Homo sapiens: one gene and its partner. The protein of the gene in region 1 interacts with the protein of each later gene in a pairwise test. Each region holds a gene or a part of one and is shown on either strand. Other genes may lie near its edges. The genes, in order: CD200R1 and PTCH1.

Evidence for each region.
Region 2: the proteins of CD200R1 (region 1) and PTCH1 interact in binary tests that used the Homo sapiens proteins (3 or more experiments, as listed by UniProt).

Annotation. Positions count from the first base shown.
Region 1 is NC_000003.12:112,924,406-112,941,285, reverse strand, and holds part of CD200R1 (cell surface glycoprotein CD200 receptor 1 isoform a precursor), read left to right. Parts: intron 1-10,114; coding exon 10,115-10,180; intron 10,181-11,778; coding exon 11,779-12,096; coding exon of another isoform or gene 12,097-12,143; exon of another isoform or gene 12,144-12,221; coding exon 12,222-12,470; intron 12,471-16,092; coding exon 16,093-16,201; intron 16,202-16,750; coding exon 16,751-16,796; intron 16,797-16,880. UniProt on the Homo sapiens protein: Inhibitory receptor for the CD200/OX2 cell surface glycoprotein. Limits inflammation by inhibiting the expression of pro-inflammatory molecules including TNF-alpha, interferons, and inducible nitric oxide synthase (iNOS) in response to selected stimuli.
Region 2 is NC_000009.12:95,464,267-95,474,911, reverse strand, and holds part of PTCH1 (protein patched homolog 1), read left to right. Parts: intron 1-4,892; exon of another isoform or gene 4,893-4,980; coding exon 4,981-5,099; exon of another isoform or gene 5,100-5,758; coding exon 5,759-6,161; exon of another isoform or gene 6,162-6,253; intron 6,254-7,465; exon of another isoform or gene 7,466-7,486; coding exon 7,487-7,796; exon of another isoform or gene 7,797-7,983; intron 7,984-10,645.

The DNA of each region.
Region 1 (16,880 bases):
TGAAAATATGTAATATATTATTGTGAACTATAGTCATCCTACAGTACTATAAAACAATAGAACTTGCTCATCCTACCTAGCTATAATTTTGTGCCCTTTAACAAATTTCCTCTATTCCCCCCTTTCCCTTACCCTTTGTAGTCTATAGAAGCCTGTGTTCTGCCTTTTACTTCTATGAGACCAACTTTTTTTAAACTTCTGCATAGAATGAGAACATGTGATGTTTGGCTTTTTGTTCTTGGCTTATTTCACTCAACATAATATCCTCCGGTTCCATCCATGTTGCTGTGAATGACAAGATTTCATTTTTTATGGCTGAATAGTATTCCATTGTGTATATATACCACATTTTCTTTATCCATTCATTTGTTATTGGGCGTTTGGGTTGATTTCCTGTCTTGGCTATTGTGAATATTGCTGTAATAAACATAGGGGTGCAGATAGATATTTCTTTAACATATTTATTTCCTTTCCTTTGAATAAATGTTTACGAGCAAGATTGCTGGATCATATGACATTTCTATTTCTAATTTTTTTAGGAACTTCCATACTATTCTTCATAGAGACTGTATTAGTTTACATTCCTATCAGTGATTTATAAGAATTCCCTTTTCTTTGCATCCTCACCAACATTTATTTGTGTCTTTTTGATAATAGCCATTCTAACTGGGGTGAATGATATCTCCTTGTGATTTTAATTGACATTTCCTTGATGATTAGTGATGTTGAGCACTTTTTCATGTATTTGTTAACCATATGTATGTCTTCTGTTCAGAAATATCTGTATCAATTACCCATTTTTAAGTTAGTTTTTCTGTTATTGTGGAGATATTTGAATTCCTTGTATATCTGGATATTACTCTTTTGTTGGATGAATATTTTACAAATATTTTATCCCATTCTGTAAGTTTATTCATTCTGTTTATTGTTTTGCTGTGCAGAAGGTTTTTAGTTTTATATAATCCCATGTGTTTATTTTTGCTTTAGTTACCTATGCTATTGAGGTCTTATTCTTAAAATTATTTCTCAGATCAATGTCCTGAAGTATTTCATCGGTGTTTTCTTCTAGCAGTTTTATAGTTTCTGGTCTTATATTTAGGTCTTCAATGAATTTTGAGTTGATTTTTGTATGGGGTGAGAGGCAGGAGGTCTAGTTTCATTCTTCTGCATATGAATATTCAGTTTACCCAGCGCCATTTATTAAAGAAGGTGTCCTTTCCCAAATGTATGTTCTTGACATCTTTGTCAAAGCAGTTGACTGTATATATGTGGACTAATTTCTGGGTTCTCTATGCTGTTCCATTTTTCTATGTGTCGGTTTTTATGCCAGTACCATGCTGTTTTGATTAGTACAGCTTTATGGTATATTTTGAAGTCTGTTAGTGTGATGCCGCAGCTTGTTTTTTTTTTTTTTTTGGTTTGTTTGTTTTTTGCTCAGTATGGGCTTTGGCTGTTTCGGGTCTTTTGTGGTTCCATGTAAATTTCAGGATTTTTTTTCTATTTTTGTTAAATGAAATGACACTTCATTGGTATCTTGATAGTAATTACATTTATTCTGTAGACTACTTTGGGTAGTATGGGCATTTTAACAATATTAGTTATTCTAGTCCATGAATATGGGATGTCTTTCTATTTTTTGTGTCTTCTTAAATTTCTTTCTGCAGTGTTGTATGGCTTTACTTGCAGAGATCTTTCATCTCCTTGGTTAAATTCATTCGTAGATATTTTATTCATTCATTTATATATTTTTGTAGCTATTGTAAATGGGATTGCTTTCATGATTTCCTTTTCATCTGGTTTGTTGTTTGTGTATAGAAATGCTACTAAGTTTTGTCTATTGATTTTGTATGCTGCAACTTTATTGAATTTGTTTATCAGTGTTAACAGTTTTTTGGTGCAGTCTTTAGGGTTTCTCTATATAAGATAATTTTATCTGGAAACATGGACAATTTGACTTCCTCCTTTCTAAATTGGATGTACTTTACTTATTTATTTTTCTTGCCTAATTTCTCTGGGCCAGACTTCCAGTACTATCTTGAATAACAAGGGTGAGAGTAGGCACTTTTTCTTCTAATTCTTCTTCTAATTCTTAAAAGCTGAAAGCTTTTCCCCATTTAGTATAATATTAGCTACATGGCCTATAGATGGCCTTTATTGTGTTGAAGTACTTTCTTCTGTACCTAATTTATTGAAAGTTTTTAGTGATGAAGGGATGTTGAATTTTATAAAATGCTTTTTCTGATCATATGATATTAAAATAATCACCTAGTTTTTGTTCTTCATTTTGTTGATGCAATGTATCACAAATATCGATTTGCATATGTTGAACCATCCTTGCATATCTGAGGTGAATCTCACTTGATTATGGTGCCTGATGTTTTTGATGTTCTGTTGAATTCATTTGCTAGTATTTTATATATATGTTTATTAGTAGTATTGGCTTGTGCTTTTCTTTTTTGCTGTGTCTTATCTGGTTTTTGTATCACAATCATGCTGGGCTTGTCAAATGAGTTTTGACATTCGATGACATTCAAATGAGTTTTACATTCAATTTTTTGGAATAGTTTGAAGTATTTCATCTGTGTATCAAGGACTGGTATTAGTTCTTTAAAAGTTTGGTAGAATTCAGCTGTGAAGCCATTTGTTCCTGGACTTTTCTTTGTTGGGAGACTTTTCATTACTAATTCAATCTCATTACTCATTATTGGACTGAGGTTTTCCATTTCTTGTTGGTTTAAAGTTGTTAGGTTGTCTGTATCCGGGAATTTTTCAGTTTTCTCTAATCTTTTGAATTTATTCATGTGTAGTTGTTCATAATAGTTTCTAATGGTCTTTTGTATTTATGTAGTCTCTGTTATTATGTCTCCTTTTTGTTTCTGATTTTATTAATTTGGTTTTTTCTCTTTTTTTCTTTATTCATCTAGCTAATGGCTTGTCAATTATGTTAATCTTTTTACAAACCCACAGCTCATATCATACTGAATGGGCAAAAACTAGAAGCATTCCCCTTGAAAACTGGCACAAGACAAGGATGCCCTCTCTCACCACTTCTATTTAACATGGTATTGGAAGTTGTGGCCAGGGTAATCATGCAAGAGAAAGAAACAAAGAAAATTCAAATAGGAGGAGAGGAACTCAAGTTATCTTTGTTTGCAGATAACATGATTCTATATCTAGAAAACCCCATCATCTCAGCCCAAAAGCTTCTTAAGCTGATAAGTAACTTCTGCAAAGTTTCAGGATCCAAAATCATTGTGCAAAAATTGCTAGTATTCCTATACACCAACAACAGACAAGACAAGAGCCAAATCATAAATGAACGCCCATTCACAATTGCCACAAAAGAATAAAATACCTAGGAAAACAACTAACAAGGGAAGTGAAGGACCTCTTTAAGAAAAACTATAAACTGCTGCTCAAAGAAATCAGAGATGACACAAACAAATGGAAAAACAGTCCATGCTCATGGATAGGAAGAATCAATATTGTGAAAATGACCATACTGCCCAAAATAGTTTATAGATTCAGTGCTATTCCCATTAAGCTACAATTGACATTGTTCACAGAATTAGAAAAAACAGTTTTAAAATTCATATGGAACCAAAACATAACCCAAATAGCAAAGGCAATTCTCAGCAAAAAGAACAAAGCTGGAAGCATCATGCTACCTGACTTCAAACTATACTATAGGGCTACAGTAATCAAAACAGCATGGTAGTTGTACGAGAACAGACACATAGACCAATGGAACAGAATAGAGAACCCAGAAATAACACCGCACACCTACAACTATCTTATCTTTGACAAACCTGACAGAAACAAGCAATGGGGAAAGGATTCCCTATTTAATAAATGGTGCTGGGACAGCTGGCTAGCCATATGAAGAAAATTGAAAGTGGACCCCTTCTGATATGGTTTGGCTGTGTCCCCACCCAAATCTCATCTTGAAATGTAGTTTCTATAATCTCCATGTGTCATGGGAGGGACCTGCTGGGAGGTAATTTAATCATGGGGGGCAGTTACTCTCATGCTGTTCTCATGATAGTGAGTGAATTCTCATGAGATTTGACGGTTTTATAAGGGGCTTTTCCTCCTTTTGCTTGGCACTTCTCCATGCTGCTGCCATGTGAAAAAGGACATGTCTGCTTCCCCTTCTGTCGTGATTGTAAATTTTCTGAGGCCTCCCAAGCCATGCTGAACTATGAGTCAATTAAACCTCTTTCTTTTATAAATTATCCAGTCTTGGGTATGTCTTTATTAGCAGCATGAGAGCAGAGTAAAACACCTTCCTTACATCATGTACAAAAATCAACTCAAGATGGATTAAAGACTTAAACGTAAAACCCCAAACTCTAAAAACCCTAGAAGAAAATCAAGACAATATCATTCAGGACATAGGCTCAGGCAAAGATTTCATGATTTCATGACAAAGATGCCAAAAGCAACTTCAACAAAAACAAAAATTGACAAATGGGATCTGATTAAACTAAAGAGCTTCTGCACAGCCAAAGAAACTATCAACAGAGTAAACAGACAACCTACAGAATGGGAGAAAAGTTTTATAATCTATTCATCTAACAAAGGCCTAATGTCCAGCATCTACAAGGAACTTAAACAAATGTATAAGAAAAAAAGAACCCCATTAAAAAGTGGGTAAGGAACATGAATAGATAATTCTCAAAAGAAGACATACATGCAACCAAGAAACATATGAAAAAAAGCTCAACATCACTGATCATTAGAGAAATGCAAATCAAAACTACAATGAGATACTATCTCACACCAGTCAGAATGGTGATTACTAAAAAGTCCAGAAACAACAGATGCTAGCGAGGTTATGGAGAAAAAGGAACACTTTTACACTGTTGGTGGGAGTGTAAATTAGTGCAACCATTGTGGAAGACAATGTGGTGATTCATCAAAGACATAGAGGCAGAAATACTGTTTGACTCGGCAATCTGATTACTGGGTATATACCCAAAGGAATATAAATAATTCCATTTTAAGGATACATGCACGTGTATGTTCATTGCAGCACTATTCACAATAGCAAAGACATGAAGTCAACCTAAATGCCCATCAGTGATAGACTGAATAAAGAAAATGTGGTACATATATACCATGAAATATTATGCAGCCATGTATAGATGAGTTCATGTCCTTTGCAGGGACATGGATGCAGGTGGAGGTGATTAGATTATCCTCAGCAAACTAATGCAGAAACAGAAAACCAAACAGTGCATTTTCTCACTTATAAGTGGGAGCTGAATGATAAGAACACATGGACATATGGAGGGTGGAAACACACACTGGAGCCTGTCAGAGGGTGGGGAGTGGGAGGAGGGAGAGCATCAGAAAGAATAGCTGATGGATGCTGGGCTTAATACCTCGGTGATGGAATGATCTGTGCAGCAAATCACCATGGCATACATTTACCTAATAAACCTGCACATCCTACCTATATACCCCTGAAGTTAAAATATTGCAAACAGAAAAAACAAAACTTTTTTGTTGTTGGTTTTTTGCATTTCTTTTTAGGTTCAGTTTCATTGAGTTCTGCTCTGATCTTTATTCCTCCTACTAATTTTGGGTTCAGTTTATTCCTGGTTTTCTTCCTTAATATGTGCTGTTAGGATGTTAATTTGAAATATTACTACTTTTTTGATGTAGGGATTTATTGCTATGGATTTGCCTCTTAATGCTGCTTTTGCTGTATCCCTTAGGTTTTGGTATTTTGTGTTTCTATTTTCATTTGTTTCAAGAAATTCTTAAACTTCTTAATTTCTTTCTTTACTCATTTGTCATTCAGGAACATGCTGTTTAACTTTCATGTATTTGTATAGTTTCAAATGTTCCTCTTGTTATTGATTTCTAATTTTATTCCATTGTGGTCACATAAGATGATATGATTGTAATTTTTAAAAATTATTTGAGACTTGTTTTGTGACCTAACATATTGTCAATTCTGGAGAATGTTCCATGTGCTGGTGAAAATAATGTGTATTTTGCAGCTGTTATATAAAATGTTCTGTAAAGGTCTGTTAGGTCTGTTTGATTTATGGTGTGGTTTAGATCCAATGTTTCTTGATTTTCTGTCTAGATCATCTGCCTAATGCTGAAAGTAGGGTGTTGAAGTCCCCACCTATTATTGCTTTGAGGTTTATCTCTCCCTTTAGCTTTAATAATATTAGCTTTATATATCTGGGTGCTCCAACATTGGGTCCATATATATTTCCAATTGTTATGTCGTCTTGCTGAATAAATTCCTTTATTTTTACATAATGTTCTTTTTTATATAGCCTTTGTCTTAAAGTCTGTTTTATCTAATGTAAGTATAGCTACTCCTGCTTGTATTTGGATTCTGTTTGCATGTCTTTTTTCCACTCCACTTTCAGTTTATGTGTGTCTTTACAGGTGAGATGAGTTTCCTGTAGGTGGCATATAGTTGGTTTTTTGAGATGGAGTTTCGCTCTTGTCACCCAGGCTGGAGTGCAATGGCATGATCTTGGTTCACTGCAACCTCTGCTTCCCCGGTTCAAGCAATTCTCCTGCCTCAGCCTCCTGAGTAGCTGGGATTACAGGTGCCCGCCACCATGTCCAGCTAATTTTTGTATTTTTAGTAGGGATGGGGTTTCATCATGTTGGCCGGGCTAGTCTCAAACTCTTGACTTCAGGTAATGCACCCTCCTTGGCCTCCCAAAGTGCTAGGATTACAGGCGTGAGCCACCATGCCCAGCTGGGTCTTATATTTTTAAATCCACTTGGCCAGTCTATATCTTTTAATTGGGAAATTGAATCCATTTACATTCAAGATTATTTGATAGATGAGAACTTACATCTGTCATTTTATTGATTTTTTTTTTCTGCTTGGTGACAGTCTTGCCTTTATTTCTGAAGGATAGTTTTTCTGGATATAATATTCACTGACAGTTATTTTCTTTCAGTACTTTGAATGTATCACTCCATTTTCTCTTGGCCCATAAGGTTTCTGATGAGAAATCTGCTATCAGTATAAGGGGGATTCCCTTATATTTGGCTTGATGCTTTTCTCTTGCGTGTTTTTATCATTCTTCCTTTGTCTTTGCCTTTTGATAATTTGACTATAACATTCCTTAGAGAGGATGTATTTGGGTTAAATCTATTTGGGAAATTTTGAACTTCTTGGATCTGAATCTCTCTCTCTCTCCCAAAACTTGGAAAGTTTTCTGCTATTATTTTATTAAATATGTTTTCTGTGCCTTTTTCTTTCTTTTCTCCTTCCAGAATTTTTATAATGTGAATGTTTTTTGCTTACTGATGTCTCCTAAATCCTGTAAACTTTATTTTTTTAAAATTCTTTTTCTTTTTGTTTTTAAAATCCTCATGTATTATTTCAAAAGACTTGTCTTCAAGTTCAGAAATCCTTTCCTCTACGTTTTCTATGCTGTTGTTGAAAAATCGTATTTTTTATTTCATTCATTGACTTCTTCAGCTCTAAAATCTCTTTTTTTATGATAGCTATCTTTTTGTTGAATTTTTCATTTAAATCACAAATTGTTTTCCTGATTTTATTGAATTGTTTATCTGTATTCTCTTTTATCTCATTGAGTTTCCTTAAGATTATTATTTTGAATTCTTCTTCTGGCATTTCATATATTGCCTTATAATTGGTTATGTTACTGGAGAATTACTGGGTTGATTTGGGGGGTCTATCATATTTTCTTGCTTTTTCATGTTTGATGTGTTTCTATGTTGATACCTACATATCTGGTGCAATTGTCGCCTCTTCTAATTTTATGGTGTAGGCTTCTTAAGAAAAAGCTTATTTATATGTAATCCATTCTAGTGATGTTTGCAAGTGTCCCTATGACCTAGGTGGTGAGTTTGTGGCAGCAGTGGCACAGCTTTGCTGGGAGTTGGTTTGCCAGCCTGCTTTTCAGGTTATGGGTGCTTGTGTGCACATGGTGGGTTACTCAACTTGGCATCTGGCTTGCTGGGTTTGGGACTATGGGGCTCTTACTCTGGCCCTGGGCACAAGCACATGGTTGTTTGGCTATCCTCAGGGCATGTCTGCTAGGGGTGGACCCACTGGGCTGTTTCTTAGGTTCTGGAGTGGGTGGGCAGCCACTCGGCCAGTCTGGGGGCATGTCTGCTGAGAGTGGGCCCACCAGATTATTTCTTAGGCCCTGGGTACAGGTCCCCACCTGCTCAGCTGGTCTGTAGGTATGTCCACCAGGGGCATGCCTGCTGTGCTGTTTCTCAGTTCCTGGGGGTGAATGCACAATCTGTCAGTCTAGGGTTGTTCACAGTAGGGGCCCGCTGGCTGTTTCTCAGGCCCAGGACATAATCATGCAGACACTCAGCTGGCCTGGCTGAGTTTCCACTAGTGGTGGATCCACTGGGTTGTTTCTTAGGCTCTGGTTACAGGCACGGGGCCACTTGGTAGGCCTGGGGTTATATTTGCCAACAGTGAGCTTGTGGGGCTGTTTCTCAGCCGTGGATGTGACTGCTGGGCTGGCCTGGGGGGGATGTCCACTGGGAGTGGATCTGCCCTGCTGTTTCTCAGGCCCCAGTTGTGGGTATGGAACTGATATGTAGGTCTGGGGATGTGTCCTCTGGGAGCGACACCCTTGACAGTTTCCCAGATCCTGAGTGTTGGTGTGGGCTGCTGATTAGTCATGGGGGTGTATCTGCCACATGGAGGGCTCACAGGGCTATTTCTCAGGCCTTGAGTGAGGGCATGGGGCTGCTGGGGAGGCCTGGGGACATGTCTGTGGCCATGTTTGTTGGGGAGGAGGCACAGGACTGTTTCCCAGGCCCTGGGTGAGGATGCATGTACACTCAGCTGGCCTAGGGTTATGTCAGCTGCTGGGTCCTCTCCCCTTCAGGAGAGGGCATGCAGTGGTTTGGCCAGCTCAATGGCAGGTTTGTCCCGGGTAGGACTGCCAGACTGTTTCTCTGGCTGGAAGTGTGGGGAGAGGGGATTGGTTTCCCTACTGTGCAGGACCAGAGTCACAGCCAATCCTGAGCCCAGGCTCCATGCAGCAAATGTATAGCCAGCTGGTGGGCTGGAGAGGTACAGTGGCTACTAGTCCCCAGGACACGGTGTACTTCAAAAGTGGCTCTAGTCCATGGTGGCCCCTTGCTGCAGCAGCTTGGCTCACAGAGGGTGGGTGGGAGGTAGCAGGTGTACACATTGTGCCCCTTATCTGGAGCAGTGCAGCTGTATGAATTCCTGGTAGCACTCCACACTGGGCTCAGGGCTTGTGAGGACTGTGAAATTCTCTTGAAATAACTCTTTTCAGTAGCTATAGGGGCTGGTGGGGTTCTTCTGCTTATGTTTTCCCTGCAAGAGGAAGTCCCTCCTGAGCCTGGGCCAATCCAGGAAGAGGATGTGGAAGGATGGGGTGCCAGAGGCAGGGTGCTTTTATGCTTCCCTCCTGAGCTTCTGATGACCACGAGCTCCTCTCCACTACTTTTCTGCACTCCTGCACTCTCCCTTTGATACTCCAGTAGAATCTTAGCTGTCTATTGCTTGGTCCTTTCTTTTGGAGGAGATGTGCACCAGGGGCCTCTAGTCAGCCATCTTGCTGACATTTGCTTCTGCTATATTTTTCCCTTTGTACTCTAATAAGTAGAAAACAAAATGAGAAAGCAACAGAGATGGATGGCCCCTTCTCAGTTTTGCTTCTAAAATTCTTGAGAAAGGGCACTGCTGTATTAACCTGGGTGAAGTGCCCAACATTGGACCAAATAACTTTGATTGGGAAGTGGTAGCTGAAGAAAGGGATATAATTGGACCAGCTCATGTGAGATGCTCACGTAGACCAATCTCCCTGGCTGAGGAAGAAGGATGCAGTAGAGGCAGGTTTATCTTTTTCAAAATATTTCAAAACAAGGTGTATCACGAAAGAGAAATTATTGATTACTTAAGTATAATTTTCAGGATATTAACACATTTAGTCCCCTAATGATGGCATGACTTCTAATTTCTGTTTTACAATGATTTTTGTGTAATTTTAATTATGGTTAACTGATTGCCTATCATGTTGGATAAGACTTTGTGGAGGGATACTGGCTTCCACTCTGAGTACATAAAATTGATTTCATTTATTCTTCTCTAAATATTTTCTAGCTTCAAGCAGTTTATGTATGGATGAAAAACAGATTACACAGAACTACTCGAAAGTACTCGCAGAAGGTAATATGCTTCCTTACTAGTGGCCAGCACCTAGGGATGGAAAGTTGAACTTCCTTAGAAATATTAGCTAATGACCTGACTGGAAGCCAGCCTTATGACTACTTGAAGAACTTGGTGATCTGAGTACTGTGGTATGAGGGATCCTGAATGACCCAACCTCTAGTTGTTCTCCAAACAAGCCATGTTCTTGCTTGTCTCTGAACCTTTGCTAAGGTGGAGTGGCGGAAGGAGCATGGATTTAACTACCTCTCAGATCTATGTTAAAGTATTACCTCTTTCTTCATCTAGTTATGTACTTATTAATTTGCTGTGAAATGCAAGGGCTAGAGTACAAACCATGTAAGAGACAGGTGACACCAAAACAGGATAGGAAAGATGTTAAATGCAGGGTTTAGCAAAAACATCCTTCACCCACATAAAGGTTTGCCCCTCTATAGCTGATTCTGCTTATGCTATAGTGATGAAATCACTGACACTTACCTTTGTTAGAGGTGAGTAGTGACAAATACTTTGGTGGACTAATCACCTCTCAGTAAACCCTTACCAAGTCACTGACACATTGTGTCGATTTATGGGATGCATGAGGTTCTACGTTGGAAGATGCTTGTAGGATGCAGGGCTTAATTTTTCCTTTAAATGATGGACAACAGGGATCAACTTACGCCTTTAGTGTTGATAATTGGATTGAATATACAGAAATAAAATCTGTGAGCTAAGTTCACAGCTGAACTATCTGAAAGTGTATGTGTGACTAAATAGGAAGGAATGAAAACTCATCCAAAGGCTACATTTGATAATGTCATAAATTTGCAATAAAATATTTTTAATAAAAAATGTCTAAAGGGAAATAAATCGTTTTTTAAAAATTATATATCACACTATATTTTCACAAGAAATAAATATTTCTAAGCATCTCTTATCACAGGGCATTATCATTTTTCATTTTTATGGGATGGCTCAACTGGTGGAATAATAGTTTTTTTTTTTTTAAAGATCTGTGGGTTTCACTGACTTTGTGATTCTTTTTAAAAAAAAGAACTTAAAAAAATTTCTAGCTAGTTCAACCCAAATGCCATATTAGTTACTTTAAAAGAAAGCACTATATATTAATACATACCACATTTATGTTTGTCTGAAACAAAAACCTTAGAGATAGACTTTTTTGTGCTCACCAAAGCTGAGGAGGAGACAGCCACATCACTAATTGTTCCATTTTCTTTCCTGTGGCACATACATTGTATGATAAAGGCAATAGTCTCCACCACCTAAAGATTAGATGTAGAACATTGCCTTTGTTGTTTAATTTACAATTCTCTTTGTTTCTAGATATTAAAACTTCTCCATTAATATAAAAAATACTTTATTATATATCATATTTCTAATAATACATAATACAGGAGAAAATTGGTTAATCTCTAGATTGGGTTCAATATATTATTTATATTTTGAGAATTTTAATTTTTTATGAAGGTCTAATATTTTTGGAATAAGATCACCAACAAAGTTATGTTCTAGTGTAACTTCATATGTTGTGGATAAATGTAACACATGAAGTTCTTTATCAAGCTTTTCTTTTATCATTCTCTTTTCATGTCCAGTTAACACTTCATGGCCTGTAAAGATGGCTACAAATGCTGTGCTTTGTTGCCCTCCTATCGCATTAAGAAATTTGATCATAATAACATGGGAAATAATCCTGAGAGGCCAGCCTTCCTGCACAAAAGCCTACAAGAAAGAAACAAATGAGACCAAGGAAACCAACTGTACTGATGAGAGAATAACCTGGGTCTCCAGACCTGATCAGAATTCGGACCTTCAGATTCGTACCGTGGCCATCACTCATGACGGGTATTACAGATGCATAATGGTAACACCTGATGGGAATTTCCATCGTGGATATCACCTCCAAGTGTTAGGTAAGGAGCATCATATATTGAGGTATTTCACATCACCAGATTTGTGACGGAAACAAATGTCTCTCTGAATTCCATATGCTTTATGTGAAAACCGAAGCATTTTTTTCCCTCTTTCCTCTCTGCAGTTACACCTGAAGTGACCCTGTTTCAAAACAGGAATAGAACTGCAGTATGCAAGGCAGTTGCAGGGAAGCCAGCTGCGCATATCTCCTGGATCCCAGAGGGCGATTGTGCCACTAAGCAAGAATACTGGAGCAATGGCACAGTGACTGTTAAGAGTACATGCCACTGGGAGGTCCACAATGTGTCTACCGTGACCTGCCACGTCTCCCATTTGACTGGCAACAAGAGTCTGTACATAGAGCTACTTCCTGGTCAGTAATTCTTTTAGTTTTATTTTTTATTTTTTTCCATTCTTTTAAAAGAGTTAAGAAAAAAAAAGATGTGCAAATATATTTTGTTCGAGGATGCTCTCCCCACTCTTCATTTTTATCTCTTCCCTGACCAAAATAAAGAGATGAGTTGAGGAGAATAGTACAGACATTTGTTGTAAAAAGCCCTTTTTTAGAATGCAGTTTAATTCTACTATTAATGTTCACTTCTATGCTAGTAGTTAATTAGCATGAGTAGTATACTTTTAAAAATAATACTTATGGCTTATTGAAAGATAAAGTATACTTTGAAGCATGTAATTATGGTTCTATTAGAAGGATACATTTACTCAAAGTTGCTTTTATGAATTTTTAGTTTGTTGTAATTTTGTTTTCTGGACTTTTCATCATTGAATTTCTTAAATGTCTTATAATAACATCTATGATTCATTTAATCACTGTTTAGTTTATTTACTCTCTGCTCTCATCCTACTCTCATTTCTTGTTATTTAAAAACTATTAAATATCAACAAACATATTTAAAGTGCAATTGTTCTGTAAGGCTTCCTGAAAAACATTAGCTCTACCCCTGTCTTTCCAACCCAATTGCCATCTCCATTAAACTCCCCACAGGTAGGTACTTTCAAATTTTCCAGTGTTTCTTCTGGTAATTAGTGCCATTTTTATACAACATGCTCATACTGCTATTTCTTACTGTATCAAATTTAGACATTATGTAATCACAACTTCTTATGGTAGATGAGGATTTCACATTACCTTCTTCCTTTCCTTCAAACTTTAGTTGAGGTAATGCAATTTTTCATTAAATAGCCTATGTTCCCATCAATTTGAATATTTAAGTACTGTTAAGTGCTGAATCAAGAAATACACTCATGCTTTCTCTTTCAAATGACTTTTTTTCCTTGGACTTCATAAGTGCTTTACCTTTTTTGTTTCCTTAAGAATGTATGTACCTATCGTGAACTATCACTAAGCCTATTGACAAAACTAGAGAACCCCTTAGTAATATTTTCTACATGGTCAGATTTATTAGGTAATCTGTTAGTTCTATTTTTTCTCAAAGTCATTCCTTCTTGAGTTTTGGTATGTGTTTGGTCTAATCTCTCCTGATTGGCCTCTAGATCTGCTGTACAGCTATTGTCCTGGACACTCTCATTGCCTCAGTCCTCTACTTAGCCTGTGTCTATTTAATCTGAGTTTCTTCTGTCTTCTATACATTTGTTTGTTTTTAACTCTTTCTTTCATATATGAGACTTTTCTTCACTCTTTGGTAATCCTTGGGTATGGATTCATTTTGAAGTGAGTACTATATGAGCTACTTGGAAGCTCAACTAGTTAATGGTTGGATTTGTCAACTAGTTAGCTTCAGTTCAGTGAAAAGAAGCTGTGATTTTTTAATAACTAGAGATTTGTTATGTATCTGAAGGCCTTTTCTCTGGGGCTGTTCAGGCTCTGCAGAAATTAACTCAGCAGTTTCTGGCCTTGGAGAGATAAGCCTGACTACCAGTGTTTGGGAAAGGAGGGAGCAATATGTGTATGTGTGTGAGTGTGCATGTGAGTGTGCCACTGTTGAGAATCAGACTTCCTTTTATACCTCTCTTCAGTCTGGTATTTCATTCTCACCCTCCCTGATGTCTGGATCCTTGACTTTGGAGTCTCTCCAGTTCATCTTCTTTGGACCAATCTGCCAATCTCCCCTTTTTCTGCTAGTTGGGAAAGGTGTGCTACATAAAATGGAGCAGGAGACAAGGGAACCTGCCTGTTCTCAAGACAAAATTTCAAAGAAGCTCTCAACTTTTAGCCCCACACTTCACCCCTCCACATACTTCTTCTTCTATATTTGATGCTTCCTACTCTAGAGTTTTCCTGGAGTTTTGTGTATACTAAGGTTTGTATTTATTCTATGTTGTAAATCATTAGCGAGTTTTCTATTCATTTCTCACTTAAAAACAGTTCGAAATCTTTCATCTGTTCTTGTCTTCATCCTCTTCTCTTTGTCTTTGCAGATCTACACTAAAAAAAAAATTATTTTTACCAACATTTTAGTAAGTTTTAATGAGGGAGAAGAGAAAATCTCATGTGTTGAAACCACCTTTATTTATATCTATCATTTAAGTCATATGTGTAGGTTTTTTTGAGTTTAGCAATATTTACTGAAAAGAGAAGTTGTGCCTTGGTTATGTGTGAAATATCACCTTTCATATTACTATATGATGTCAGATTTATAGTGTCTCAGAATTGAAGGGAAATTCTCATTCAAATTCCTATGTACAGCAGGGATCTCCTTGATGTCTTCCTTGCACGGTGGATCTTCAGCTTCTGCTAGTACAAATTTAATGAGAGAGAGCTTAGTAGTTTGAAAGCAAGGGTTTTAAAAAATGTTGTTTTAAACAATGTAACCAAACATTTAATTTTCATATAACATATGGAGAAATTCAGTATTTAAAAACATCAACTGTGGAAGAAAGGTGGAAGGACCAGAGGCCAGCCTGCTCAGTCTCCACTTCATCTCCTCTGCTGCCCCTGAGCTATATTCATGCAACACCAGGAGCATAGTTTGCAAATCGTTGCCTCTCAGGCTGGCAATTCCTTGGTTGATTTGCACGCTTGTCAGATAGAGTTTTGTATTGCTGCCAGCAGCTAATAAATAAAGTTCCTGCTGTGTATTCATTTCAGTTTCAATGCCCTGGGAGAAAGATGACTTCAGAATTAGGGTTACTTTTCCAAGTATCTTCCTTACAATTGCCCATTTAGTTGGAGGGGAGAAACACTCTGCTATAACAGAGTGGTAGGAATTCACCACCAATGAATCTTTAAAGCAACAAAACCCTGATATAAGGTGATGTCTTGCTGAAAACTCTGGAGTCTGTATTGAAAAAGCAGTTTTATTTTAATAATTCTCAAACTATTAATGGGGCAGAAGTGTTGAAAATGAAACTACAGATATGAATTTCATGTATTGTGAGACATTATTGAATGATCTATATAGATAGATATGGATATAAATATAGATAACTTTATTTTTAGTAGACATTAATTTTTAGAGCAGTTTTAGGTTCACCGCAAAATTGAGTGGAAAGTACAGAAATTTCCCATATAAGCCCTGCCTTCGCCCATGTCCAACCTCTCCCACCTACACCTGCACCAGAGTGTTACATTTATTAGAACTGTTGAACCTCCATTGATACAACATTACCACCCAAAGTCCATACTTTACATTAGAGTTCATTCTTGGTGTTGTACATTCCATGGGTTTGGACAAATGTGTAATGACATGTATCCACCAGTACAGTATTATATGGAACAGTTTTATTGTCCTACACAATCCTCCTTGCTCTTTCTATTCCTCCCTCCTTCCTCACCACCAGATAATCAATAATTTATTGACTATTCCCCTAGTTTTATCTTTTCCGTAATGTCTTACAATTGGAATCATACAATATGTAACATTTCCAGATTGGCATGTTTCACTTAGTAACATACATTTGAAATTCCTCTATGTCTTTTTATGGTTTGATAGCTCATTTCTTTTTAACATTGAATAATAAGATAGTACATTATTTGGATTGTACCACATTTGAACCATATATTTTTGTGTCTATAGTTCCAGGTGCCAAAAAATCAGCAAAATTATATATTCCATATATCATCCTTACTATTATTATTTTGACCATCGTGGGATTCATTTGGTTGTTGAAAGTCAATGGCTGCAGGTATTGACTAATGAATGTTTTTTTCTTCTTCAGCTTTATTAGGCTAGAAAAGAGTCAGAAATATGGAACTGACCGTATTGGGTATATTAGGATGTTAACATCAAATCTCCCATAATCAAATCTTGAAGGTGTTAGATAGACTTGGACTACTTTGAATGATGAGAGAGACTTTGCTAGGTTGCTTTGGCATAGAAGCATGGAAAATTAGGCCATTTAGGGTAGGATCTTGGGAGAGAAAGTGCATGTTAATTTTCACATTTGGGTAAATAATTACAATTCCTTCATGCACCAAAGAGGAGATGTTACATGCATTCAATTGCATCAAGCTTCTATTGCATAATTTCACTTTTTCAAAATCCGGAATATTCTTAGTTGGGGATATTAACCACGAGCAGTATTCTTCACTTATTTCTAGTAGTTTCTTTCTGATTTATTATGGCTTCTATCAAAATTAAACACAATTGTCAATAGTATACTGTCTTATTTTCCCATTTTCGATCTAAACAATGATGTTTCCTCCATTCACTTCAATTTATTTTATTTTTATAGAAAATATAAATTGAATAAAACAGAATCTACTCCAGTTGTTGAGGAGGTAAGATAAGATAAAAAAGACTAATTGCAAACTTAAGCCAATAGTCTGAAAATCTAGCAACATAATTTGTAGTTTGTATCAATA
Region 2 (10,645 bases), on another chromosome or scaffold:
TCACTTTTTCACTTGTTGTTAGGATGCCCGGCACACTCACACAGCTTTACTCTACTCACCAAGAGTTCCTGCAGATGCGAGCAGGAAGAGAAATTGACCAGTCTTGCATCTGGTTTCTGTTTATATTTTGTCAATATGTTTAGCTCTTTCCTAGTCTTTCCATTTGTCATGTAAGAGGAACCAATCAATCACGTATTTGAATGTCATTTCGCTAGTAACCAAGAGGCCTGGGCAACTACTGATCCTACTGGGTTTGGGAATGGAGGCATCTTTAGTATTTAGTGTGAGGCACAGCTGGAGAAAAGATTCTATGCCAATTACCGTAACCGCCAGCCCCAAAAGAAACATAAAAAGAAAAGAAAACAGGGTTTATTTATATTATAAATTTATATAGAAGTAAAAATAGTGAATCAATGAATAACGTTCAGATCTGATGCTCGAACCAAAGCACAGGACAAGGAAACTCTCTCTGATTGCTCAGTGGCATGAAAGGTGAACCAGACTCGCAGTGCAGCTGAAGTTGTAGAATGCCTTTGTGCGCAGGTGTGTGTCTGCTCAGCACCCTGTGGTACCCCAGTCTCATTTCACGTGCAGCCGGTGCTGGTATTGAGAAACTGTTCTAGAGTCTTTTAGTCATGGGACCCTGTCTGCCCATTCTCTCTCCTCTCCCCTTCTTTTCTGCTTGCCTTTTTGCTCACTGTCTTTCTGTATCTGCTCATACTCCTTCTTTTCTTCTTTTCTCTCTCATTCTCTCCTCTCCTCTCTTAGTACATACTGATGGCTCATCGAGGCCGACTCTCCTTTAATGATACCCTGTGGTGTGGTGGTCTGAAAAGCTACATGAGGTTTCCTTACGAGGAGTAGCCTTGTAGAAAATCCAGTGCGCTAAATTCTCCCAAGGTAAGCACCTTACAGAGACAAAAATGAGTACTGTTGGTTTTTGTGTTTCTGTTTCAAAGCACCACAGTATCACTGTAGAAAATTGCAACTATAGCTTCCAAGAGTCCTCATCTTACTGAAGAATACCTCCTCATGACACTGGTTAATTCTCTGTCAAAAGAAAAAAGGAGTGCTTCGCACGGTGGCTCACGCCTGTAATCCCAGCACTTTGGGAGGCCGAGACGGGTGGATCACGAGGTCAGGAGATCGAGACCATCCTGGCCAACATGGTGAAACCCCGTCTCTACTAAAAATACAAAATTTGCCGGGCGCGGTGGCTCACGCCTGTAATCCCAGCTACTCGGGAGGCTGAGGCAGGAGAATCGCTTGAACCCGGGAGGCGGAGGTTGCGGTGAGCTGAGATCGTGCTATTGCACTCCAGCCTGGGTGACAGAACAAGACTCTGTCTCAAAAAAAAAAAAAAAAAAAATAGGATAGAAAATGCAAAGAAAAGAGAGAGTGTGCAATGATTTTTGCAGTGGCCATCAGAAAATTTTCCCTGGTTCTCTTTTAAATGTATTGACCCTCAAAATTGGCCATTATGTAGCTTCTCTTTCCATTGATGAACAGTATCAGGTTTGACTCTGGGTGTTCAGTTGTGTTTATATTTGCAAGATGCTACAGATTAAACATCAAAAGGGAGTGACCCAAGGCGGTTCTGTCCAATAGTAAACCTGCGTTACCTTCAGAATTTTCCATATAAAACTCCTCCAATTTTGTAGCCTGACCAAATAATTAGATATTTTTTTCCACAAGGAAACTGTCTTAAACCTCATCAGCCTTTATCCATCTGCCTAAATGCCATCTCTACACCAGAAATCACTGGCATCAGCTGTAATTCTTTGTAATTAACTAGGGCTTGCTGGTAGCCCAGTAGTGTTTATTCTTCAATGAAAACTCACAGAACAGAACCCCTTGTTGTTCTGTCTGGTCTAGGAGGGTTCAAGTGGAACCTCCTCTGCATGTGTCCCAGCCTTAGCTGCTTTGAGGGGATGGGGCATTTCCTATGAGTACAATAACTAGAATTGATTCACAGTTGCAGTATCATCCCCATCATCTTCTCTGGTTTACTTACACTCTCTTGCCTTTGCGACAACCCTTCTTGCTTTCTGAGCAGCCCTTGCTGGTTGTTTTACTATTTTGGTGTACACCTGGGGACCTGGCACTGAGAAAATACTCCGCCATACATGTAGTAGGTTATGAGAAAGTCAGTAAGATGGGACGCTGCTTGGGGTTCTTCCCTCATCCCTTCATTTCCGTCATGGACACGGAGCAAGGTGCCCAGCAGGCTTCTCTGACCGATGAGGCCGGCTGGTGCCCATGCCTGTGCCCGTGGGGCTCCCTGTGTCACGAACCTCTGCTCTCCTCATCCTCATGAACACCTGTCCAAATTGGGATGCCCAGGGTCTCTTCTCTACATTCCACTCCTCCATTCTAAACATGACTGATTTTAAAAGCTAAAAGGATTCGGCCCCCAGGATGACATCTGGAAAATCTCCGTTAGAATCCTACCTGTTCTTCCTGCCATCCCCTGCTGTCTCACGGTCAGGTGTCCTAACCCCGTCCACAGACGTCCTCTCAGTAAGGGACCAGATCTCACAAAACTCCCGGTTCTCAGCTGAGCTAGGGGCTTGGCATCAAGTCTTTGTTTGATCTGATTTACTGGATAACCTCAGGCAGGTGACTTGACCGCACTTCGGGGACTTTATCAGGTAATACTGTCAAGAGCAGTGAGAACCTCCTGTTTGCTATGAATCAGGTATGAACGATCTGATCTTCATAGCTTCTCCTTTCTCTTCCCCAAAGTGAATTTCAAACCCCAGCAGTACTGAGGTGCTTGAGCCAGGTGTCTCCTCTTGCACACTCTGTGTTTTTTTCACAGGGAGCACCTGCCATTCCCCTGCTCCTGACTGATCTCTTTTGCTTTTCTTTTTTGAGACGGAGTCTCACTCTTGTTGCCCAGGCTGGAGTGCAATGGTGCGATCTCGGCTCACCACAACTTCTGCCTCCTGGGTTCAAGCAGTTCTCCTGCCTCAGCCTCCCGAGTAGCTGGGATTACAGGCATGCGCCACCACGCCTGGCTAACTTTGTGTTTTTAGTAGAGATGGGTTTCTCCATGTTGGTCAGGCTGGTCTCGAACTCCAACCTCAGGTGATCTGCCCGCCTCGGCCTCCCACAGTGCTGGGATTACAGGCATGAGCCACTGTGCCCGGCCCTCTTTTTCATCTTATAAACCCTGCTGAAGCCTCTCCCGGGAAGCCTGCCTTGACTGACCACCCCTCCACCCCACTGAGCTGCTCTGCAGCCTGACACCTGCCTTCATGACGCCATCCATCATTCGAGATTGTCATTTGTGTATAGGTCTGGCTCTGTGAGAATTGAGAGTAGGATTTTGTCTTATTTATCTTTGTGTCTCCAGCACCCAGCACAGTACTAGACTTTTCTTTTTAAAAGATCTCTCTCTTTCTCAGGTAAATTCTCTTGTCACAGTGGTGATGAGCTTATTTGTGTAGGTCTATCAGACAGGTCTTAAATACATTAGAGTGGTAAGCTAACATGCTTCATATTTTTCAGTTGATGAAGGATTTTCAAGATAGACCAAGAAGAAAGAGGTTAGGTAGTTTTTAGAAGAACGCTCTTGAGAGGGAATTAATTATTGGAAGACATCTCTCCGGAACTCAGGCTTGCTGGTTCACCTTCAGCATAAACTCACAATTCCCATCCAAAGCCCTTTGTGGAAGTTCTCCCTGGATTGTGTTAGGTGGCAGTTATAGCCAGGTTTTCTTTCCTCACCCTAGGACGTTTATCAGTTTGAGATTTGTGAACTAAGCAGTTCTTTGAGAAGCCTCGTTTTTTATTTTCTTTCTTTCTTTCTTTCTTTTTTTTTTTTGAGACAGACTCTCACTCTGTCACCCAGGCTGGAGTGCAGTGGTGCAATCTTGGCTCACTGCAACCTCCATCTCCCAGGTTCAAGCAATTCTCCTGCCTCAGCCTCCCAAGTAGCTGGGACTACAGGCATGTGCCACCACACTCAACTAATTTTTTGTGTGTTTTTAGTAGAGACGGGGTTTCACCGTGTTAGCCAGGATAGTCTTGATCAGGAGATCCCTGACCCCGTGATCCACCCACCTCAGCCTCGCAAAGTGCTGGGATTATAGGCGTGAGCCACCGCGCCTGGCCTCGTTTTTTATTTTCAAAGCCATGTCTGGCAATTTCCTGGCTCCTCAGCATTGCCAGTGCTTTTCTCTGTGGTGCCCCTTCTGCCGTGCCCTTCCGAGCTGGGTCGACTTCCACCGGCTTCTGTTGGCTTCCCCTATTAACAGCCCAATTTTGTAATTTTTACTAGGTCAGCAGAAGATTTGCCAACGCACTGCAGAATTTAGCCCTGTGTTTATTCTAGGTTATGGAGTGACTTTTGAATCTGTACTTATTTATTCTGCGTACTATAATCACACACAGGAATTTCTTTCTGCTTAACTCTCCTTGACCTTTTATGTTTCTTGCTCTCACACCCCACAGGCTACTCCAGAGGCAATTTGGAATGTGCCTATTAAAACCTCAGGGGACACGTGTGAAATTGTATTTCACGTTTTAAAGGGGGACATTTTGATATACTCGATCCACTTTATATAAAAATGTTTAACTGTAAAATCAGGGTCGCGTGACCTCTTGGAAGCATTCTGGAAGGGAACTGCTTCTGTTTGTTTTAAATTCTATCTCGAGTGTGCTCTCTGTTCTGCCTTTGTGGATTTGGTTTGGTTAGGTTACTAGCAACACGTTAGTAGTTTAGTTCCCAGGTTTGTGCCTTATCGGTTTATGGAATTATTAGAGATAGAAAGGCCCAGAAACAGTCAAGACTATTCCTATCAAATAGGCTCTTGATGATGTAGCAAAAGAAACTCTTAACATCTGTCACGGTTTCAAATGCTTCAAGAGGAAAGGGAAAGAAAAATATTGTTTAAAAGCATCTTTATTTTCGAAGCAGTCCTCTGATTGGGCGGAGGCATGTTGGTGACCTCTGAATTTTTTTTCTGCTCCCAGGCAGCGGTAGTAGTGGTGTTCAATTTTGCCATGGTTCTGCTCATTTTTCCTGCAATTCTCAGCATGGATTTATATCGACGCGAGGACAGGAGACTGGATATTTTCTGCTGTTTTACAAGGTACATTTTCAGACTGCTGTGGCCTTTTGATTGGGTGCAGAATGGTGCTGTGAGAGAACTCTTTCAGCCTGTGGACTTATAAAGGAATGTGGGTAACGGGGTTTGTGCTGGTGTGGAGAACGTAGGGGAGAGATTGGACAGAGGCTGCTTCCCTAGGGGGACATCAGAGTCCCTGGGCTTCCTTCTCCCCTGCCGCAGCTGAACAGTCTCACAGCCCTCAAGATGCTGGTTCCGATGACCCCTTTTTCCATCATGAACTGATGTTGCCGATTGTAGGAATGTTTCATATCTCTGCATTAGAGCAGAACAAGATTGAAAAACACCCATCTAGAAAATATATAGTCCTTTGATGGTGGTTTGGTTTTGTTTGGAATTGTGCTTTGAAGGATTCATCATCATGGAACTTGCTTTTGAAAGCCAAATTTAGGATCAGTCCTCCATGTGGCCTCCTCAGACTGACTTTTATCTAGTTCACCAGGCGATGAACCAGGTGATGTTATCAACCAGGCGATGTTTCTGGAATTCAGCAATGTGATGTTTCTCTCCTAAGTCAGAGCTGTGTAAAATGGGTATTCTCCGTACACAGTGAAAAATGGCAGAATGAAAGCACCATTTCCCTGTTTCAGCATAACATTGCAACATGTTTCCCCTCCTTTCAGCCCCTGCGTCAGCAGAGTGATTCAGGTTGAACCTCAGGCCTACACCGACACACACGACAATACCCGCTACAGCCCCCCACCTCCCTACAGCAGCCACAGCTTTGCCCATGAAACGCAGATTACCATGCAGTCCACTGTCCAGCTCCGCACGGAGTACGACCCCCACACGCACGTGTACTACACCACCGCTGAGCCGCGCTCCGAGATCTCTGTGCAGCCCGTCACCGTGACACAGGACACCCTCAGCTGCCAGAGCCCAGAGAGCACCAGCTCCACAAGGGACCTGCTCTCCCAGTTCTCCGACTCCAGCCTCCACTGCCTCGAGCCCCCCTGTACGAAGTGGACACTCTCATCTTTTGCTGAGAAGCACTATGCTCCTTTCCTCTTGAAACCAAAAGCCAAGGTAATCTGCCACAACTTAAGGCTCTTCCTGTCTTCAAAAAAATAACAGAACCTTTGGAGTTCATCAGATTGCTTCTACTTTTCTTCTTTTTCCTTAAAAAAAAAAAAATTTCGTTTAAGTATGATACATTTCAGTCCTCCAAAAGTCAATGCTTTTAGAGCATAGGGCCATTTTAATGAGGTCATCTTCCATGGGAGTGAACCTCTATGCAGCAAGTCTTTTTATGAATGAGGTTGTTTAAAAATGTGATTATTGCCACTTGCGGTGGCTCATGCCTGTTAACCCAGCGCTTTGGGAGGCTGAGGTAGGAGGATTGTTTGAGCCAGGAGTTCGAGAACAGCCTAGGCAACAAAGGCCAACCCTGTCTCTACAAAATATTTTAAAAATTAGCCAGGGACAGGTGTGGTGGCTCACGCCTGTAATCCCAGCACTCTGGGAGGCCAAGGCCAGCGGATTGCTTGAACCCAGGAGTTCGAGAACAGCCCAGGCAACATGATGAAACTCCATCTCTACAAAAAATTGCCTGGGCATGGTGATGTGCCTATAGTCCCAGCTGCTTAGGAGGCTGAGGTGGGAGGGTCACTGAGCCCAGGGAGTCGAGGCTACAGTGAGCCGTGATGGTGCCACTTCATTCAAGCCTGGGTGACAGAGTAAGACCCTGTCTCAAAAGAGAGGGGGAAAAAAGGCATGGTGCTGTGTACCTGTAGTCCTAGCTACTTGGGCAGCTGAGACAGGAGGATCATTTGAGCCCAGGAGTTGGAGGCAACAGTGAGCCCTGATCATGCCACTGCACTCCATCCTGGGAGACAGAGTGAGATCCCAACTCAGATACATAACAAAACAAGGCTGGGCATGGTGGCTCACGCCTGTAATCCCAGCACTTGGGGAGGCCGAGGTGGGTGGATCACCTGAGGTCAGGAGTTCAAGACCAGCCTGGCCAACATGGTGAAACCCTGTCTCTACTAAAAATACAAAAAAAAATAGCCAGGCGTGGTGGTGCACACCTGTAATCCCAGCTACTTGGGAGGCTGAGGCACGAGAATTGCTTGAACCTGGGAGGTGGAGGTTACAGTGAGCCGAGATGGCACCACTGCACTCCAGCCTTGGCAACACAAGACTGTCTCAAAAAATTATATATAAAACAAAACAAAATAAAAATGCGATTACTATGATTTTATCCTTTTTCCTATGGGAGAACAACCCCTACAAGATAAATCAGTTTAAGTGTGGTGGTGAAAACAAGGTATTAACTAGACAGCTTCTCTTTGTCCAGGAAGAGTCAGTGGTGCTCCCTGGGGTCTGACCTTGTGCCTCTTCTGTTCCAGGTAGTGGTGATCTTCCTTTTTCTGGGCTTGCTGGGGGTCAGCCTTTATGGCACCACCCGAGTGAGAGACGGGCTGGACCTTACGGACATTGTACCTCGGGAAACCAGAGAATATGACTTTATTGCTGCACAATTCAAATACTTTTCTTTCTACAACATGTATATAGTCACCCAGAAAGCAGACTACCCGAATATCCAGCACTTACTTTACGACCTACACAGGAGTTTCAGTAACGTGAAGTATGTCATGTTGGAAGAAAACAAACAGCTTCCCAAAATGTGGCTGCACTACTTCAGAGACTGGCTTCAGGGTAAGACGGCGTGGGAGGCTCTCGTCCTTTCGGTCTTTTGCGTGTTCAGCTTCAACAGGTTCCTTTGTCATGATTATGAGAGCGTTAGATTAGAATGTAACACTGACGTGTTTCATGGACTTTTAAGAGTTGCTCAAGATTCTTACATGAACTGTTTCTGCAGCAGCCTCCCAGATCTGGCTTTTACCTATAAAATGATGCAGATAATTCAGATGAGCTTCTGTGAGAATGTACAAGTGCACGTCAGGAAAAGGGGAGCATGTTGTAACAGGTGGAGCCGAGGCTTCTGGTGCTCTTTCCTCTTGGATAGACGGTGGCTAGTTTGGTGACCACATAAAATCAAAGTGCGGCTGGGATTTCCAGACTGATTGCCAAATTATAGCTTACTGCACCAGGAGATGCTAGATAAGCAGTGGACATAGTCTTACACTCCATATTTTGACCATCTCTTTAAAAATTATCTATTTCTAATTGACTTTGTTTTTAGAGCAGTTTTAGGTTCCCAGGAAAATTGAGCAGAAGGTGCTGAGATGGCCCATATCCCCCTTCCTCACCCACACACAGCCCCCTCGACTGTAAACATCCCGCACCAGAGGGATGCATTTGTTACAGCTGATGAACCTGCACATTATTACCCAGGCTCCATAGTTTACGGTTGGGTTCATTTTGACCATTTTTTGATTTGGTACTTGAAGTAAAGTTATAAATGCTTAGTAACATTTCACATTATTTTATAAATAATTAAATTCTGTTTTAAAATGCCTTTCTTGGTGGGGCACAGTGGCTCACGCCTGTAATCCCAGCACTTTGGGATGCCAAGGCGGGCAGATCACCTGAGGTCAGGAGTTCGAGACCAGCCTGGCCTACTAGTGAAACCAGCTCTCTACTAAAAATACAAAAATTAGCTGGGCGTGCTGGTGGGTGCCTGTAATTCCAGCTACTCAGGAAACTGAGGCAGGAGAATCGCTTGAACCTGGGAGGTGGAGGTTGCGGTGAGCCTAGATTGTGCCATTGCATTCCAGCCTGGGCGACAAGAGCGAGACTCCATCTCCAAAAATAATAAATAAATAACAGTGCCTTTATTGGCTTCTTCACTCTTAGAAATGTTTCTAGGAAATATTCATCAGCTGGAGGGGAAAAAAAAGTCTAAATTTTCTCCTGACCGACTGCACGTAAATGTATGCAGTGATTCCAGGAACATCTGTTCATTTATTCTGCATTGACACATGCAAAGCCAAGTAGAGAATCAGGATAATTATCCACCCAATTCAAGCAAAACACTTTTACTGGAGTACCAAATCATTATGGCCCCCAACATTTTTTGGCTTGGATTATCCAAATGATTGTCTTAATTTCCCACTTAATTAGGCTTGTTTAAACACAGATGTAAGTGCCTTTTTTGGTCTGAAGTCAATACACTTGTATGTAAAGACTCAGCAGCCAGTTTCCCTGAGAGTTTGCAGGAAATGGTCAACAACTTGAGGTTGGTAGAGGATGGTTCCATACAGCTTCTGGCCTTGACTTGTGTTTACCAGAACTTTGTGTCTACATGTACACCCAATTTGACTTTCCTTTTGGAGGAAGGTACAGAGAACATGCCATGATTATTATTTATTAACACCCTCCTGAGACGAACGTGAATTTGTTCCAAGTTTTATTTTTCACATTTAGTTTAGAAAGCAATGGTTTTTGGGATAATGAGTTAAAAGAGAGACAGTGGAGAGAGTCCCTGCTTTCATTTTCCCCCCATTGACCAAAGACATATAAATAACTTGCCACAAATGACAAAGAGATCTGCTGTGCCCTGCCAGTCTGTGAGCAGAGAAGGGTTATTGTAGAGTGTATTTCAGTGTCTTTGGCCATTGCTCTGGAGGCTCAATGTGGCATGTTAGGCAGGGATTGGGAAGGGGGTAAAGGGGGATTGTCTCGAGGCAGTGCAAAGGGTTAACCTTTTTATAGAGCATTGTAGATCATCTCTATACGTTTCTTCCTTTATAGATGTAAATCAGCTGGAGTTGAGTTTTTTTTTTTAAGGTGCATTTGAATCATGTTTTGATTGCTGTGTGAACAGCATACACCTAGACCAAGTGAGATCCATTGGTGCTAAGCAATCAGGGTCCCAGGCAGCCCTGGGACTCCATGACTGACTCTTACAGGGTCCGCTAGAGCACTCAACACAGAATGACCAGACACTGGAGCCCTTTGCTGCCTACACGTTTTTCAGGCCTGTTGAATGGTTGATGTGGTGTTTGAACATTTTCTACAAGGAAACAATTATCCTTGAGTCAGCTTTCCTTGCTGACATTTTTGTGTGGCTTTTAAATGGTGGGAGCCTCATTGGTTTTTAATGGAATTCCCATTAAAACTATGTCATCTCATTGGTCTTTATCGACATTACAATAGTTTGTCTTTGATTTTTTTTACTCCTAAAACTATATAATGGTTAATTTCAAAACTATCCCACATGTCACATCTTAAAACATACATGCAAATAAGGCAGAGTCAGATAAAAACCATGCCTCGAGTCATGTACAAATGTGTTCATTTTTATTTCACACTGGATTATGCAAACAAAATTTTGATTAACATTTTACTTCTAGGGTCCCATAGCTGAAGGAAAATGGGCAATTGGGGTTATTCCTTTGGCCTAGAACTTTACATTAGAAAATAATTATTGACACAAAATATTCATAAGAGGAGAACTTCTAGCTAAGATATTAAGGTTTGCTGTAAAATAAGTAAAAAGTCACAATTTTCTAGAGTGTGCATGCATTGGAATATGAAGCACTGGCTAAAGGGCAGTGGAAACCCAACCTTATCCCTTGTTTTGTATCCAGGGTCGTACCTTG